Linked DNA regions of Homo sapiens: region 2 is linked to region 1. Evidence: fine-mapped expression QTL. Tissue or cell type: whole blood. Region 1 holds a variant in brackets; the other region holds the start of a gene. All regions are shown on one strand. Distances are from middle to middle.

Evidence for each region. PIP is the estimated chance that this variant, and not a neighbour inherited with it, causes the effect.
Region 2: CWC15 starts here. The variant in region 1 is fine-mapped to the expression of CWC15 in whole blood (INTERVAL, PIP 0.97).

What each region holds. Positions count from the first base shown.
Region 1 is chr11:95,007,445-95,015,554 of GRCh38, reverse strand. It overlaps the pseudogene LOC100420801. Among named protein-coding and RNA genes, the nearest start is that of KDM4E, 14 kb to the left of the region's middle. The variant A/G (reference allele first, on the strand shown) is at 4,788.
Region 2 is chr11:94,969,682-94,977,791 of GRCh38, reverse strand. It overlaps CWC15 (CWC15 spliceosome associated protein), which reads left to right and starts at 4,236. Exons shown (of 7, transcript NM_016403.4): 1 at 4,236-4,294; 2 at 5,599-5,737; 3 at 6,305-6,417; 4 at 6,727-6,815; 5 at 7,696-7,803. The coding sequence starts at 5,607. It overlaps KDM4D (lysine demethylase 4D), which reads right to left and starts at 4,083. Exons shown (of 3, transcript NM_018039.3): 1 at 3,724-4,083; 2 at 2,044-2,138. RefSeq lists enhancers at 3,830-3,979, 4,300-4,469, 4,184-4,959.

The DNA.
Region 1 (8,110 bases):
GTTCAAGACAGGCAGATCACCTGAGGTCAGGAGTTCGAGACCAGCCTGGGCAAATGGCGAAATTCCATCTCTGCTAAAAATACAAAAATTAGCTGGGCATAGTGGCACGCACCTGTAGTCCCAGCATTTTGGGAGGCCGAGATGGGCAGTTCACCTGAAGTCAGGAGTTCGAGACCAGCCTGGCCAACATGGTGAAACCCTGTTTGTTCTAAAACTACAAAAAATTAGCTGGGCGTGGTGGCACATGCCTGTAATCCCAGCTACTCACTCGGGAGCCTGAGGCAGGAGAATTGCTTGAACTGGGAGGCAGAAGTTGCAGTGAGCTGAGATTGTACCACTGCACTCCAGCCTGGGTGACAGAACGAGATCCTGTCTCAAAAAATATATATATTTTCTTATTCTTTTGAAATTATAAGTTATTCATGTTTTCTTTTAACCCTAATATATTGTCAAATGTTGTGAATTATCCATTGGTACTTGAAAATAAGGGGATATTCTCTATTACTGGGTACATAATTCTACCTTATGGTTAATGTTGTTTGTTTTCTATATCCCTACATTTGTCCTTTTTTTCTGTCTTCAGTACAGTAAAGTTACTTAAATTCTTCTGTTTTAAAAGTACTACTCAAACTTGTCTTATAGAAACTGCAATTTATACTTAATGAAACTCACATGGGTTCTAGGCTGGATCTCAAATTTCTGGCCTAAATCTGTACCATAAAAAGGAGAGCCCTATACCATAAAAGAGAAAAGAAATAATACTTTACCAGAACTTTCTTTTCCAACTGTGGTAAATTCCACTTTGGACCCTGCAGCCCATGCCCGCCCCTCCTGTTTTCCCCCTAGAAAGACAAGCCCAGCACGGAAAGCTCCGTGGGTAACCGTCTCCCAAGCACTGCTCGAGCCCAGCACAGGGGCCTTGGACACCCGCCTCTGGATTCTCTGTGCAAGCGCTCACCCTATGTGGATTCAGTCAGGACTTTGGCAGCCTCTGAGACCAGAAGGCCATGAAGAAGGAAGCCCACTAGAAGCAGTGCCCACTACCCACCCACGCTCACTCTGACAGAAGCACACAAGCTTTGCACTGCCCGTCCTGTGCCAGGTAAAGGGATCCCGTGAGCTTCAGTGCATGTACAGTGCTGGCTGTGAGTTTGGCAAGAGCTTCCTGGCTTCACACAGCCACCTGGTCACCATGCCCAGCTTCCCACAGAGCCATGTTGTGCCCATAGTGAGTTACTGCCAGCAGGAATAAAAAGATATGGAGCACAACTCTCCCCAAACTCTGCAGATTATGTGAAGACTGAAAACGCTGTTTCAAAGCCAAGGAGACATCCGTGATAAGGGGATACTGAGAGAAACTTTAGACTCCTAAACCTGGGACTTAGGATAGAACTGAGAGATCCATGAATTCCCTGAAATAGTAATAGATGCTGGTGTGCATATATTTGGTATGCAGCTGTCAGTAGTCTCTTAAAATTCAGGAGAAGTGACACAAGTTTTAATCTAAAATTTTAATTAAATTTAATTACAATTTTTGAATTTCAGATGACATTAAAAACTGATTTACTGCAGGTATTTAATCAGATCTCCAATCAAGGCAGACGCACAGGGGTATTAATGATGTTCAATGAAGAATGTGTAACCTACTCTAAAAGGTGATTAAATGGTTTTACCAGGGACACATGAAGATATGTTTACACCAGTGTTCATAACAGCACCATGCACAGAGCCAAAAGGTGGAAACCACATAAGTGTTCATCAGTGGAAGAACTGATCAACAAAATGTGGTATATACCTACAGTGGAATATTATTCAGCCTTGAAAAGGAAGGAAATCTGACACATGCTGCAACGTAGTTGAACCTGGAGGACATCATGCTAAGTCAAATAAGCTAGACATGAAAGGACAAATATTGTATCATTGCACTTACATGAGGTACCTAAAATACTGAAATTATTAGAGAAATAAAACAAGGGATACCAGCAGCCAGGGCAGGCTATAATGAGGTGTTACTGTTTAATGGGTAGAGTACTAGTCTGTGATGATGAAAACGTTCTGGAGATAGAAGGTGTTGATGGTTGTACAACGATGGGAATGTCCTTAAAGCAGCTAAACTATACACTTAAAATGGTGAAAATTGTAATTTATACATGTATACTATACCAAAACAAAAATAATTAAAAGTTTAATGGAAGAAAAAGTTGCATGGCTATTTATAAAGGCTGTATTTTCATTGTGAAATTTAGCCTTTAGTATTATAAAGAGTCCTTCTATGTCCCTTTGGTCTACATTTGTTTGATATTAAGATCTACCACCTCTGTTTCCTTTTGCTTTTGCATTTTCCTTGGTACAGTTTCCCCCATTCTTTTAGTTTTCAATTTTTCTGAATCACTTAGTTTTAGATATATCTCTTTTATAATTGTGATTTTAAAATATGTTTTCAGGATTTTCCTTTTTTTACATGTCAGATACACACTAGGAGTGTCAAATTTAACAAACAGGAGGCAGCATTTGGTAACCTTGAAAATGTGTCAGTTCTTGAAGGTCGAAGAATCTAATACACAGGTCCAGACCCGAACTGTGCTTGGCTGGGAGCCTTCTGTGGCTTCTGTAGTTGAGGTCAGAGGGGCAGCCACATTTGGCAACATATTCAACAGTCATGGGTTCAGATGATTGAGATCTTGCATTGAAGGCAAATATCTCCAAATTCTGAGGTGCAGCTCTGTCTACCTTTAGCACCAGGAGATGAGTCAGGGGCTTAGGAGATTCTGGCAACCTCAGTAGGGGCCAGGATCCTAGAGGCATGAGTGGTCCATTGCTTCAGTCTCATCCAGATTCACAGGGGCTGTGCAATCTGGAGCAGCATCCCTGCAGAACTTATTCAAAGACACAATGACATTGGGAGGAGTCAGGGGAACAATGTCAGAGAGATTCTGAGTGGTGCTACCCTGGGTTAGCAGGCATAGGGGCCAGGGTGCATGGGTTCATCATGATTCAGTGGGGACCCCAAGGGTTGATGATCAGGGGCACAGCAGCACCCAGAAGCCTTGGCAAGATGCTGAAGCCCCAAGTTCAAAGGTGCAACTTTGTCCATCAAAGCTTCATCTGTATACAGCGGATGAGGCTCAGGGCCCAGAACTAAGTGCACTGTGCCCACCAAGAGGGGCCTCCTGGCCTAAGCCAGAATGGTCGGCTCCTGAGCCCCCAGTTCCAGAGCACAACGACTATGACCACGACCATGTCTGCCAGTTTGGGGATGAAGATCTGGGGTGGACAGAATGAGGGTCAGCAATGGGATCCAGCCAGGCTTCTGGGAGCTGCAGGTCATGGTGACCTCGCTATGGGAAGCAGCCCCTAGGGCCACTGAAGGACGGAGGCGTGGAGAGCACATAACGGCACCCACGGCCACAGGCAAACTGGGGCTTTGAGCTCAGTGAAGAGGGAGATGCCTCAGGCCTAACACGGCTCTCCTGGTCAACTGGGCCTCCCTCTAGGTGCTCAGCTGCTGGCTGTCTAGTGCCCTGGGCTCCATGTGGTCCACAATTGCCTGGTCTTGCCTGTGTTTCCGCAGCTCATAGGGCTCGGTTTACAGGATGTGCACAAAGACGTCCATGGGAAAAAGTCACCCTCGTCCCCTGGCAGCCACACTGGAGGCCACTTTGCTGTAATCGATCCATAGCAGGGTCACGAAACTGATGTCCTTCACCCAAGGGCTAGTTTCCTGATTTGACTTATAAAGGTCCTTTTTTAAAAAGCAATTTTAAAACAGAGTTAACTAAGAGGCTGAAAATTAAGAGGTTGAAAAAGGCACAACAGGACAAATATTAAAAAAAGAAACCTGGGATAGCAATGTATTTATAGGATCAAAGTGGCACATTTTATAACTATCAAAAAGAAAACTTCACTAGAAACATATTACAGTGATGAACATCATACACCTAACCATATGGCATTGAGTCATAGAAAGTGAATCCTGAGAATTACAAGGTAAAACTGATGATTCTGCAATTATGGCAGGAGTTTTGATTTTTCTTTAACACCATTCTCTCTGAAAGTGACAAAGGAGAGAAGAAAATTAATAATGCTATAAGAGTTTGAACAAACTTAACAACTTTGATCATATGACTCACCACCACCATAAAGCAAAGAGAAATGCTTTACAACAGATATAAAACATTTACAAAAATTTAGCAATTCGGGGTACAAAATAAATATCAATTAAAATTCCATACAATCAGTATATTGAGCACAATCTTGACCACAATTAAATATAATTTAAAGTCAGCAAAAAGGAGTTGAACCCAACCATATTTATTTCAAAATTAATATCCGTGTTTGTAAAAGTCTATTCATCTCGATGCTCAACTCAGCAGTTAGTAAAAACCAAAACCAAAAAAAACAGAATTAGGCAATAAAAATGAAAGATTAAAATAATGACAGAATGATAAACAAAAGAGAAAACAAAGATACACAAAAAAAGAGATGATTAAGGTACTGAAATCTGATGCCTTTAAAGAAAAATAAAATAAAGAATTGGCAATACTGATGGAGAAAAAGAAATTTCTAGACCGAGGAAAGGAAATGTACTGGACAAGTCTGGGATATCTTGAAGTGCTTGAAAACAAGGATGTTTTAAATACAAGCAAACAAAAACCTTGATGGGGGTACGGCAACGGGGCACAGGAATGAACAGAAACAGCTCCCAATGGCCAAAGCTTGAAGAAACTTAGCAAAAAAAAAAAAAAAAGTCATCTTGAATTATAATCAAAAGTACAAAATAAATATCT[A/G]TGAGTTCATACTGATATAAATGATTGAATAAATTGACAAATTGAAGAAAAGAGACAAATCTATCTTGTAGCAGAATTCCAAATAAATTATATAAATGCTATACCCTAAATAATAGGGAGAATAATACCCTGCTCCTTTTTAAATTGTTTTCTTCAAATGACATATAAAAATTGTGTATATTGATGGTGTGCAACATGACAGTTTGATATGTGTATACACTGTGGAATAAGTCAATAAAGCTAATTAACATATGCATTATCTCACATATCTTTTATAGTGAGAGCACAAATCTACCCTCTTAGCAATTGTAAAGTGCACAATACATTATGATTAACTATAGTCACCATGCTGTATAATAAATCTCCAGAACCTGCTCCTCTCAAACTAAAATTTTGTACCCATTGACGAACATCTCCTCAATGTTCCCACCCTTCAGCTTCTGATAACTACTATTAAACTCTCTGCTTCTATGAGTTTGACTCTTTGCTCCCACATATAAATGAGTTCACGCAGTATTTGTTCTCCTGTGTGACTTATTTAACTTAGCATAATGTCTTTCAGGTTCATTGATGTTGTTGCAAATGACAGGATTTCAATCTTTTTAAGGCTGAATAGAATTCTATTTTATACATATGCCACAGTTTCTTTATCCATTCATTCATCCACTGAGAGACACAGGTTGACACCATATCTTGGCTATTGTGAAAAATGCTGCAATGAAAATGAACATAGGTGTGCCGTTATCTCTTCAACGTGCTGCTTTCATTTCCTTTGGATATATACCTGTCAAATAAAATTCTAAGAGGATTTGGACTGGGCTCCTGCACAAGACTCAACAGACCAAACCAATATAGAGTTTTATCATGATAGCTGAGCTTCAGTTAATCACAGAAGGTTCTGTAACCAATTAACCAACTAAGTTATAACTAATTAAGTTGTCTCTATACCTCACTTCTGTTTAAATGCTGCCAGATCACTTTTTTGGCCAGAGTCCTCTGAACCTGTTTTGGTTTTGGGGGCTGTCCAATTTGAGAATTGTTTTTTGTATTGTTTTATTTTGTTTTACTCAAATAAACTCCGGTAAATTTAAGTCTAAGGGTTTTTTTTCTTTTAACAGATTGGCGTGGTCAGCGGGATCTGAAGCAGAACTCCAGTGATTGCCAGGGGCACTGGGTAACCAGGTATAGTTACCTGCACTGTGCTTATTTTTTCCTTGCTGCATCTGGGGCTCATGAGTAAGTTCTCTCTTGGATTCCAAAGCTCCACAGATTTGTGCTTTGAGCTATCTTTGAGCAAAGTTTTGATCTGGACTAGATTTGGAAGTTGATTCTAGAATCATGAATAAAGGATCTTTCTTTTTGCCTTGAGCCCAAATCCGAGGTTAATTTGTGCTATGAGAGAGCACGTGAACTTGAGCTGGGTACCAAGGATTATCTTGTGCTGTAAGAAGGCATATAACCTTTGGGGTTTGCAGTGTCTAGATCAGACAGAAACTGGACTACAAGATAGGGAGTTCATTTGGATTAAGGAGTCTAGAACTCTCTGTCCTAGCAGACCAGGAATCATGAGTTCATATGAATCTAAAAAGTCAAGAATTCCTCCATCTGTAACTCCAGTTAATTTTATATACAGTACAAGAATGCTTTTATAGATAAATGGATGAACCTTACCAAAGGTAAGTTAGGGTTACTGTGGCCACAGTGGGGAAGTTTTAATTCAGATAAAGTTTTTCAATTTTGAGGCACATTAGAAAAGCAAAGGTTAATTTCAAAAGGTACAGAAAAAGCATTAAATAAAATTCAACATCCCAAGGCCATATATGACAAAGCCACAGATAGCATCATACTTAATGGGAAAAAGCTAAAAGCCTTTTCTCTAAGATCTGGAACAAGACAAGGATGCCCACTTCCACCACTTTTATTCTTTATAGTACTAGAAATCCTAGTTACAGCTATTAGACAAGAATAAGAAATAAAGGGCATTTGTATTGGAGAGGAAGAAGTCAAATAGTCCTTGTTTCCAGATTATATACTCTTTTATTTAGAAGAAACTAAAGACCACCAAAAAACTGTTTGAATTGACAAATGAATTCAATAAAGTTCCAGGATACAAAATCAACGTGCAAAAATCAGTAGCATTTCTATACGCTAACTGCAAACAATCTGAAAAAGAAATCAAGAAAACAGTTCCATTTACAATAGCTGCAAAAAATAAAATAAAATACCTAGGGATAAATTTAACCAAAGAAGTGACAGATCGCTACAATTAAAACTATAAAACACTGATAAAAAAATACAGGACACAAAAAATGGAAAGATATTTCATGTTCATGGATTAGAATAATTAATATTACTAAAATGTCCATGCTACCCAAAGGGATCTACAGCTTTACTGCAATCCCTTTCAAAATACCAGTGATATTCTTCAGAGAAATAGAAAAAAAATCCTAAAATTTATATGGAGCCACAAAAGACACCCAATAGTCAAAGCAATTCTGAGCAAAAAGAACAAAGCTGGAGGCATCACATTTCTTGACTTCAAAATATACTACAAAGGGATAGTAACCAAAACAGCATGGTACTGGTATAAAAACAGACATACAAACGAATAGAACACAATAGAGAATGCAGAAATAAATTTATGCACTTACAGCCAGCTCATTTTCAACAAAGGCAATAAGAATGTGCATTGGAGAAAGAACACACTCTTCAATAAATGGTGCTGGGAAAACTGGATATCCAAAAGTGGAAGATTGAAATTATGCCCCATCTCTCACCATACACAAAAATCAAATCAAAATGGATTAAAGACTTAAATGTGTGACCTGAAACTATAAAACTACTAGAAAAAAATTGGAGAAATACTTTGGAACATTGGTCTGGGCAAAAATTTCCTGAGTAAGATCTTAAAAGCACAAGCAACTAAAGCAAAAGTAGACAAATGAGGTTATATCAAATTAAAAAGCTCCTGCATAGGAAAGGAAACAATTAACAAACTGAAGAGACACCCTGTTGAATTTAATTGAGTGCTTTTCTGTATCTTTTGAAATTAATCCTACAGAATGGGAGAAAAGATTTGCAAACTATTGGGCATTTTTATTTATTTCATTGGCATCTAAAAGATTAAATGTATCAAAAGTTGCCTCCTTACAAAAGGCAAACAGGTGCATGTTTTTACAGCTTCAATAGCTACAGTGTCCAAGAGGGTTCTTGTACATATTTTGAACCAAAACCAAGGATTTCTAAACTAAAAAATCCCTGTGCCCTGGTATGTGTGACTTTATTGTAAACAGTCATGCCACTGGAAAAGAAAGTGTCTACTT
Region 2 (8,110 bases), 38 kb after region 1:
AGATCTCTGCCCTTTTAGAACTTATATTCTACATGGGAGAAGTAGAGAAAGAGACAATAAATGTAACATAACTAAATTATATAGGGTCATGGAAGATGATAAATGCCATGTAATTATATATAATATAATTTTAAAAGATAAAAAGAAGAAAGAGGGGAAGGGAGATACGGAGTACAGAATGTTAGGGGACAGAGAGGGAGAACAGTTGCAATTTTAAGTAGAGATGCCCAAGGTTCGTTGGACTCCATTTGAACAAAGACTTGAGTAAGACAGGAAAGAATAGCCTTGGCAGAGAAAATAGCTAGTGTGAGGGCCCTAAAGCAGGAGCAGCTGTGTGCGTGTCCAAGCAACAATATGAAGGAGGTAGCCATGAAAAGCATGAGCAAGTGATGAGGTCAAAGAGGTAGGGGAAAGGGTAGACCATAGAAAACTTTGGAAACCATTGTGAACACCTTGGCTTTTACTGTGAGGGTAATGGGGGACCAATGCCCCCCGCTGTCTGACTGGATCCCCTTTTCTCTCAATCCCATCCAACTATGTTATTAATTTTTTTAATTGTTGCCAATCGGATGCTGTAATGTGATAATCCATTTTTAGTTTACTTTCATTTTCCTCATTAGAAGGTTGAGTGTCTTTCATGTTTATTGACTTGTCTATTTGAAATTGCTTTTTCTGAATGGCCTGCTTATATCTTTTGTCCATTTTTTAATTGGGTAATTTGTGATTTTTATATTATGTGTATCACTAGCAGTAGCAGTAATCCTTTATATGTTATAGGCATTACAAAATTTATTTGCGAATCTAGAATTTATTGACTTGTTTTTGGCATCTACAGCTATAAAATTAATTGTTGGATAAATGAATTTTTAAAAGTATTTCTTTTAAAGCTCTTAAGGTGTTCTGCTTTGATTGAAAGGTCTTTCCAAATTCTAGGTTCTATAAATAGTTTCTTAAATTTTCTTCTTAGGTTTTTATGGTTTCTATTTTCCCTTTTAGGTGTTGATTTTGTTTAAGCTTTAAACTGGAATTCCTATGCTACTCCTGCCATAAAAATAGAAAGTTTTGCAATCAAGGGCCAAACTACATCCCTTTCACATTTAATTAAATGCTACCTTTGGCATACTAAAATGAAAGAGCCTTTTTTAAGGTTAAGATATACTATACCATGTCCAAAAGCTGATAAAAATGATCTGAAAGGGATGGCCTCATAGATCATAAGAAAGAGAAAATATATAGCAAAATGCCAGCCACTAAGAAACCTGGAGGAATTAGGACCCAGAGCACAAGGGAGAGTGTGGGTCACCTCATCTCCAGTAATAATGAGAATCTGAGGATACAGGAATAGCCAAAGGCAGCTCGATAGATCTGCGGAAAAAAGGAGATGAGAAGTCCTTGTTTAAGAGCTTCTGTTTTCTCAGAGAACTGAGAAGATCTACTGCCAGGAAAGAGAATGCAGAGGGAAAAGGAGGTGAAAGAGGCATGTAGACTTGAAGAAAGGGGAATGTGGGAAATTATATTATTGTAGAGGGGGAAAATAAACAATTAGGAGAGCATAAGAGGACTGGCAGGCAGAATTAAGGGCCAAACTAGATTTTGTGGTAACAGGTTTAACATAAGAATTCTTGGGAGGTTATATGATTTTTGCCAGCTAGGTTAACTGATCAGATGAATTTCAAGATTTTAGTAAACTTAAGTTTCTTTTTCTTAATACTTTCAAACCATTTAAGTCAAAAGCTTTAGTTTCATTTTCTTATTAGCACTTTCATTTAAGTCAAAAGCTTTTAATTTTGTGGATTGACTATATTGTATATTGGTGTTAATGAAATTATAGGGTGGCTATTTATCACCACTGGCAACCAAAAGATTAGGTTAGTGGGCTGGGAGTTAAATCAATGAAGTGATTCACTCCAGGCTAATGAGGACAGTTGGAACATAAAAACTGTGGGTATCTCCTATAATTGTGTTACCATCTTGCCATTGTTACGTCATTCCTCTACTTCATAGTGCATCATTCATTCATTCATTCATTCAACAAATACTTACTCAGCACCTATTATGTGCCAGGCACTGTTCTATATGCAGAGGATACACCCAGTGAACAAGAGAGACAAGGTTCCTGCTTTCCTGGAACTTATGTTCTAATATAGGAAGATAGACAATAATAATAAAAATAATATTAATAATAATAATAATAGCTAACATTTATTTAGCAAGTACTATTTGCTGAGACAGTTCTAAGCACTTTACAAGTATTAATTCACTTAATCCTTAGAGTAGTATTACAAGTTAGGGACTAGAATTACGCCCATTTTACACGTGAGGAAACTGAAAGCACAGAAAGGGAAAATGACTTGCCTAAGGTTATAGAGCTAGGAAAGGGCAGAACTGGAATTTAGAACAAAAATGGGCAGGCTGAAGATCCTTTTCTCTTAATGACCTTCGCATGCTGTCTCCTGAGAGACATGGAAATAAAAAATGAATAGAATAGACTCTGGTAATGTTTAGTGGTATGAAAAATGAAACAGGGTGATGTGATGGTGTACAAACACAAGTGTTGGAGGGGTGGGGGTAGGAAAACCTCACTGTGATACCTGAGACATGAAGGATGGTGATACAGTTACTTTGGGGCACAGGCAACAGAGAAAAGCTAGTGCAAAGGCCCTAAAATAGAAGGAATCTTGCCCTGTTTTATAAAACAGAAATGCCCACTTGGCTGTGTCTAGAGCTTAGTGCGTAAGCGAGTGACTGATTGGAAGTGAAGTCTGGAAGGTAGGCAGGAACCAGACTCCGTGGGGTCTCAGGTCACATTAAGAAATGTGATTTTTATTCTAAGTGCAGTGAAATTGTACACAGGATAGTAACACCATTTTATTAATTTTAAAAGATCACTCTCTTGGCTATATGCAACACTGACTGTAGGATAAAAGATGACGCAGGAAGATATAATAGGAAGCAATTACAATCCAGGTAGGAGATGGTGTTGGCAAAGGCAAGGGTAGTGGCAGTAGAATAAAATTGCGGGTGAGTTTTAAAAGTAGAATTGTTAAGACCTGTAAATGAACCGTATGTGAAGAGTGAATGAAAAGGAATTTAAGTAGGCACTCCGGGATTTTGGTTTGAGTAACTAGCATGATGATCGCGTCTTTTAGTGAGACTTGTTAAGACTGGAGGAGGGATACCTTCGGTAAGAAAAATCAGGATTTTCATCTTGAACTCTATGACTGAAAGGGCTTTTTCTGCTTTTCTTTCTTCATTAAAAAGTTGCAAAGAATTTAGGGGTAAGAAAGCATTTAAATATTCAATTTTGTGAGTTCCTTACATTTTAAACTAAGTTGGGGAAGTTGAATTTTCATTTGTTTAACAAATATTAATTGAGCAGCTACTATACGTCAAGGTCTATGTGATGAGATACCAAGATGAGCTAAACAACCAAGATCTCTATTCTCAGAATTTGTTTTTATGGAAGGGAGGAGAGACGACTGGTAGGTTTTTGGTTTTCGGGTTTTCTACTTTTCGTTGTCTTATTAAAACTTAACACTTAAGTAGCCATCTTAATAATTACATCTTGTGCTCCTGGTAGTTGGGCCCACCATTGTAAACGCTCTCGTAAATACTGACATCTCCCCTCCCACTAAAACTAACGTTTTTTAAATAAGAAATTTTAGCAAACATTACGAATACAACCTTTGCTTTGAAGTGTTAATATTTTTGCAGGAATGGTACCTTTGTAAAGATCGTGGTTGCCCCGTACATATTTGTTCTTTCTTCATATCCAATTAAATGAAAACACTAGTTTTTCCGAAGCCCAACTCTCTAGGTTTGTTGGTTCTAGCTCAGGAGAAAGGATGGAAGCAGGAGTCGTTGGATTTAAACAGTTTGGTGTAATCCTTTTCCACGCTCTCTCCCGCTAGCCGGGGACGTGGTGTCGGCTACCCGGGGCTTTCCGTCCACGCAGTACCGGAATGAAGGAGTCTGGGAGGGGGTCGGGGACGGAAAAGACGGAAGAGACATTAAGTAATTGGTTCTTGAAGGTATAAAATGAGGTTTAGGGTCTACTCTAAGGCACTGATTTCAAACGCCCGCCCCCTGGGCCGCTTCGGCCCCGCCCCTTAGTGCCGTTACGCCGACTTCCACTTCGGCCACTGCGGATTGGTCGTTGCTTCCGCCCCCGAAGCGCTTGGATTTTGCTTCCGGGTCGTAGGCGCTAGCTCTGGGCGCAGAGGTTTCTGGGAGCCAAGAGTGGTAATGGCGTCTGTATGATCTTCGGAGCCTGCTGCATCGGACCTCGGCCAGTGTGAGCGGCAAGAGGATAGGAGATTATCTTTCTTATCGCGATGGGACGGGAAAGGGCAGTTGGGGTCGGAGTCGGCGGCAGAGTGCAGAGCGCGGGCGGTGGAGGCCCTGGAGCAGCGGGCTAGGGGCGGAACCGAGTGCCTGTCAGGCGCGTCTGGAGCTCTTGGGCCCGCCGAGGAGATCGCAGCGTACAGGCAGCTCGCCTACTGCGTAAAGCGAACCCCAGGTCCTCCCTTCACTACCCTTCGCACCCCTGCAGTGCTGGGCACGGGTGAAGAGGCAGCGAGTTTCTGGTTATAGCCAAAGACTAGCTCACGGGAGGCCGGAGTGATAATTCCGTGGGTGTGTGGGAAGGGGCGGCGCCCCCAGCGCCAGATAACCCTGTTTTCTTCTTTGTATACATGTCTCTACCCTTTTTGAAAGTTGAGAGAATTAGCATCGCCCCCCCCCCAAAAAATCCTCCCAATTCGCCCACCCTCCCCACACACTTGCTTTTCCGACACTAACAGGGTTTTAGTGACTGCATCTGCTGCACAGTATTCTTGTGACTGCTCCAAGCAGAAAGTAACTTGAGGAATGAGTCCCTGATTTTTGGCATCAGAATCCTCTGGGGGTGAGGTTCCTGTTTTTTTTGAACAGGCCTTAAATTATAACCCACAAACGATCTAATTTATAGTATGATGCCTGTTGTAGGAGAAAATTGGCTCAACAAACGGTTGTTTAAGAATTTTTTTCTGTGTAACTGTCATTGAAGTTTAACACACTTTTCTCTGGGACATTTAGTAACTTTGTCAGTGATATTTTTTGTTTGTTTTTAGCTTTTGTTTCTACTAGCCTATTTGCTATTGTGTGAAGTTTAGATAAAATGCAAACCTTACAGAGTCTGGTAGAGTAAGGTTGAGTTGGAAATTTTTAAAACTCAGTCATGGCAGTACTGTATTTTACTAGGGTTTTGACATGTCAAGTGTCATAATTCTTATAATCTATGAGGAATATCTCCATTCCACAGATGACAAAGTTAAGCCAGGTGACTTGCTCAAGCCCATATAGTCAGAAGGAGAATAGGGATGCAAACTCAGATCTTCATGACAGAATTTTTTGTACTAAGGCAAGCCTGAGAAGCCATATTCCTTGTACAGCCTAAGCCTCATAATTTGTTTTCTTGAAAACTTTTGTTTAAGAAGATTAAGCAGGTTTTGGGGAATGAGTTTTAGAACTTATTTTACCAGTATGGATATTGATTAATACTCTATAAAATGAGTGTTTGTAATGTTGGAAATAACTTGATTATATTTTTCTTCAAAGCATAAAAGATGACAACAGCAGCCAGGCCAACCTTTGAACCTGCCAGAGGTGGAAGGGGAAAAGGAGAAGGTGATTTGAGCCAACTTTCAAAGCAGTATTCAAGCAGAGACCTACCCTCTCATACAAAGATAAAATACAGGTAGTAAGACTTTCTTTTTTTATTGTTCACAAAACAAGACCAGATCTGTTAAATGGCATGGTCATGATATAGTAGTATGTTTGAGTTATGTCACTTATCTATTTTCATAGGAATAGAATGCAATAGGATGTTTAACACTAAAATTCTGCTGTGATTTTAAAATGTGAAATTCCTACTAACCAGGAATTTTCATATGTAGATAGAACAATAAATAATAGAAATAATAATGCCTCAGAGTATGCACTATGAGCACCAGTCAGTATATTAAAAGTATTACTGTTAAGTTCTGAGTTGATATAATCCTAATAAAAATTAAAGACATTTTAATCACTGTAAAGCCTTATTATAGGAAAATATGTGATTGAATTTGGACTTCTTGAAATATTGGGAACATCACAAGAGTGGCTGTTAGTAACCTTCAGATTAAATTATGATCTTGTCTACTTCCCTTTTTTCTGCTTGAAGGACAAAGTCTCATTCCTGAATTGTCTTCCATTACTACAGTCTCTGTGTGTGTGTGTGTGTGTGTTTAAGTAACATTTTTGCCCTGGTTTGTTTCTACTTTAGACAGACTACTCAGGATGCCCCTGAAGAGGTTCGTAACCGTGACTTCAGGAGAGAGTTGGAAGAAAGAGAGAGAGCTGCTGCAAGAGAGAAAAATAGGGATCGTCCAACCCGAGGTACCAACACTATCCAAGACATTTGTCTCATAAAATTATGTTGTTGATAGTTTTTCTTTATGTAGCAATTGGAAAATGTTAACCATTTGTTTACTTTTACAGATTGATGTGAGCTGTACTACTTTCTTAGGTCATTAGAGATAATAACAACAAATATTTACCAAAGGCTTATTTGCCCAGGCACTGTGGATGTGAGTTCACTGTGGATAATGCTTTTAATGTGGGCTCCTTGTGCTCACAGGTCCCTAAAACATTTTAAGAAATGAAGTATTTGTTTTACTAAGTTAAATGATTTTTGTTTCCCCCCAGAACATACAACCTCCTCTTCAGTGTCAAAAAAGCCACGGTTAGACCAGATTCCTGCCGCCAACCTTGATGCAGATGACCCTCTAACAGATGTATGTTTTGTTTCCTCCTTTCATCTCTAATAATTGATTTACCATGCTATTCTAAAATACTTGTTATGTCTTTGCTTTAAGAAGTGACATATATTTATGTTTAGTTACTGTTATTCAAATATAGCCCTGACCTCAGTGCTAAACTTTATAGTTGATTTTAAAATCAAAAGTATTATTTTGTGGGACTTTAAGAACAAGTTTGATCTCTAGAGAACCAAATATGGAAGGAATCTATAAAAGGATATGCTTTCCCCCAAAATAATGTCCTGTACTAAACTACTGCACTACTGCTGTGTTACACACCTCTCCAGGGCACTCTTCATACTGGGCTTCCTATAAACAGTGCCCTCTAGAGTTGTACCTGGAGGCCTTTCCATATTAGATATGTCCCCTTCTATAAGTGCAATACACTTAATGGTTCCCTCTGTGCTTAGGGAGGGAAGTAATCTAAGCAGAAGGTTTTTAAGGATTAGCACATCAGTTAATGTTAAAATTCTGTGGGACCCTAGAGCCTATAATCAATTTGCAGTTTTCTACATACAGGACAGTGAAAAACCTGAGTGGCATCCAATGAGTAATATCTAACTATGTATACATATCAGCAGTTAATTCTAGAGTTAATTGATGGAGTTACTCATAATAGTTAAAACAGGAAACCTAATTTCAACTGAAATTTAATGATTATTCATTTGAAATTATTTTCTTCTGAGAATTTAGCACACTTTTTTGCACTTTTGAGTATCTTTGCTGCTAGCTTAAAGTTGTTTTGAGCTACATAAAATTGTTTTGACTTTCTTAGGGTGATACGTTGTACATATGTACTGTGTTTTGGTAGTGTGTATTTTCCCTCCAATCTTCTGGGCTCTCACTGTTCTTTTAGGAGGAAGATGAAGATTTTGAAGAAGAAAGTGATGATGATGATACTGCAGCTCTTCTTGCAGAACTGGAAAAAATTAAAAAAGAAAGAGCTGAAGAGCAGGCCAGGAAGGTAAAACCAAAGTATTAAATATTTACATCTATCTTCTCACATACACTAAGGTAGAAATTTTTTTGAATATAAGTAATATCTTCTTATATTAGAAATCTCCTTTACCGTGTCTAAATATTATAGCACTTGTAGATCTATAAATGATTATTTTTATGACATCCTAGGTATCCTGGTTATGTAAGAAATTCTTTCCAAATAGTTCAGATGCACTGAGTAATATTCACAGGCTTGCTAGTCATTTACTTGTTTATTCATTTGTTCAACATTTAGTCGATATCTGTTAATTGACAGGAGAATCAAAGATGAT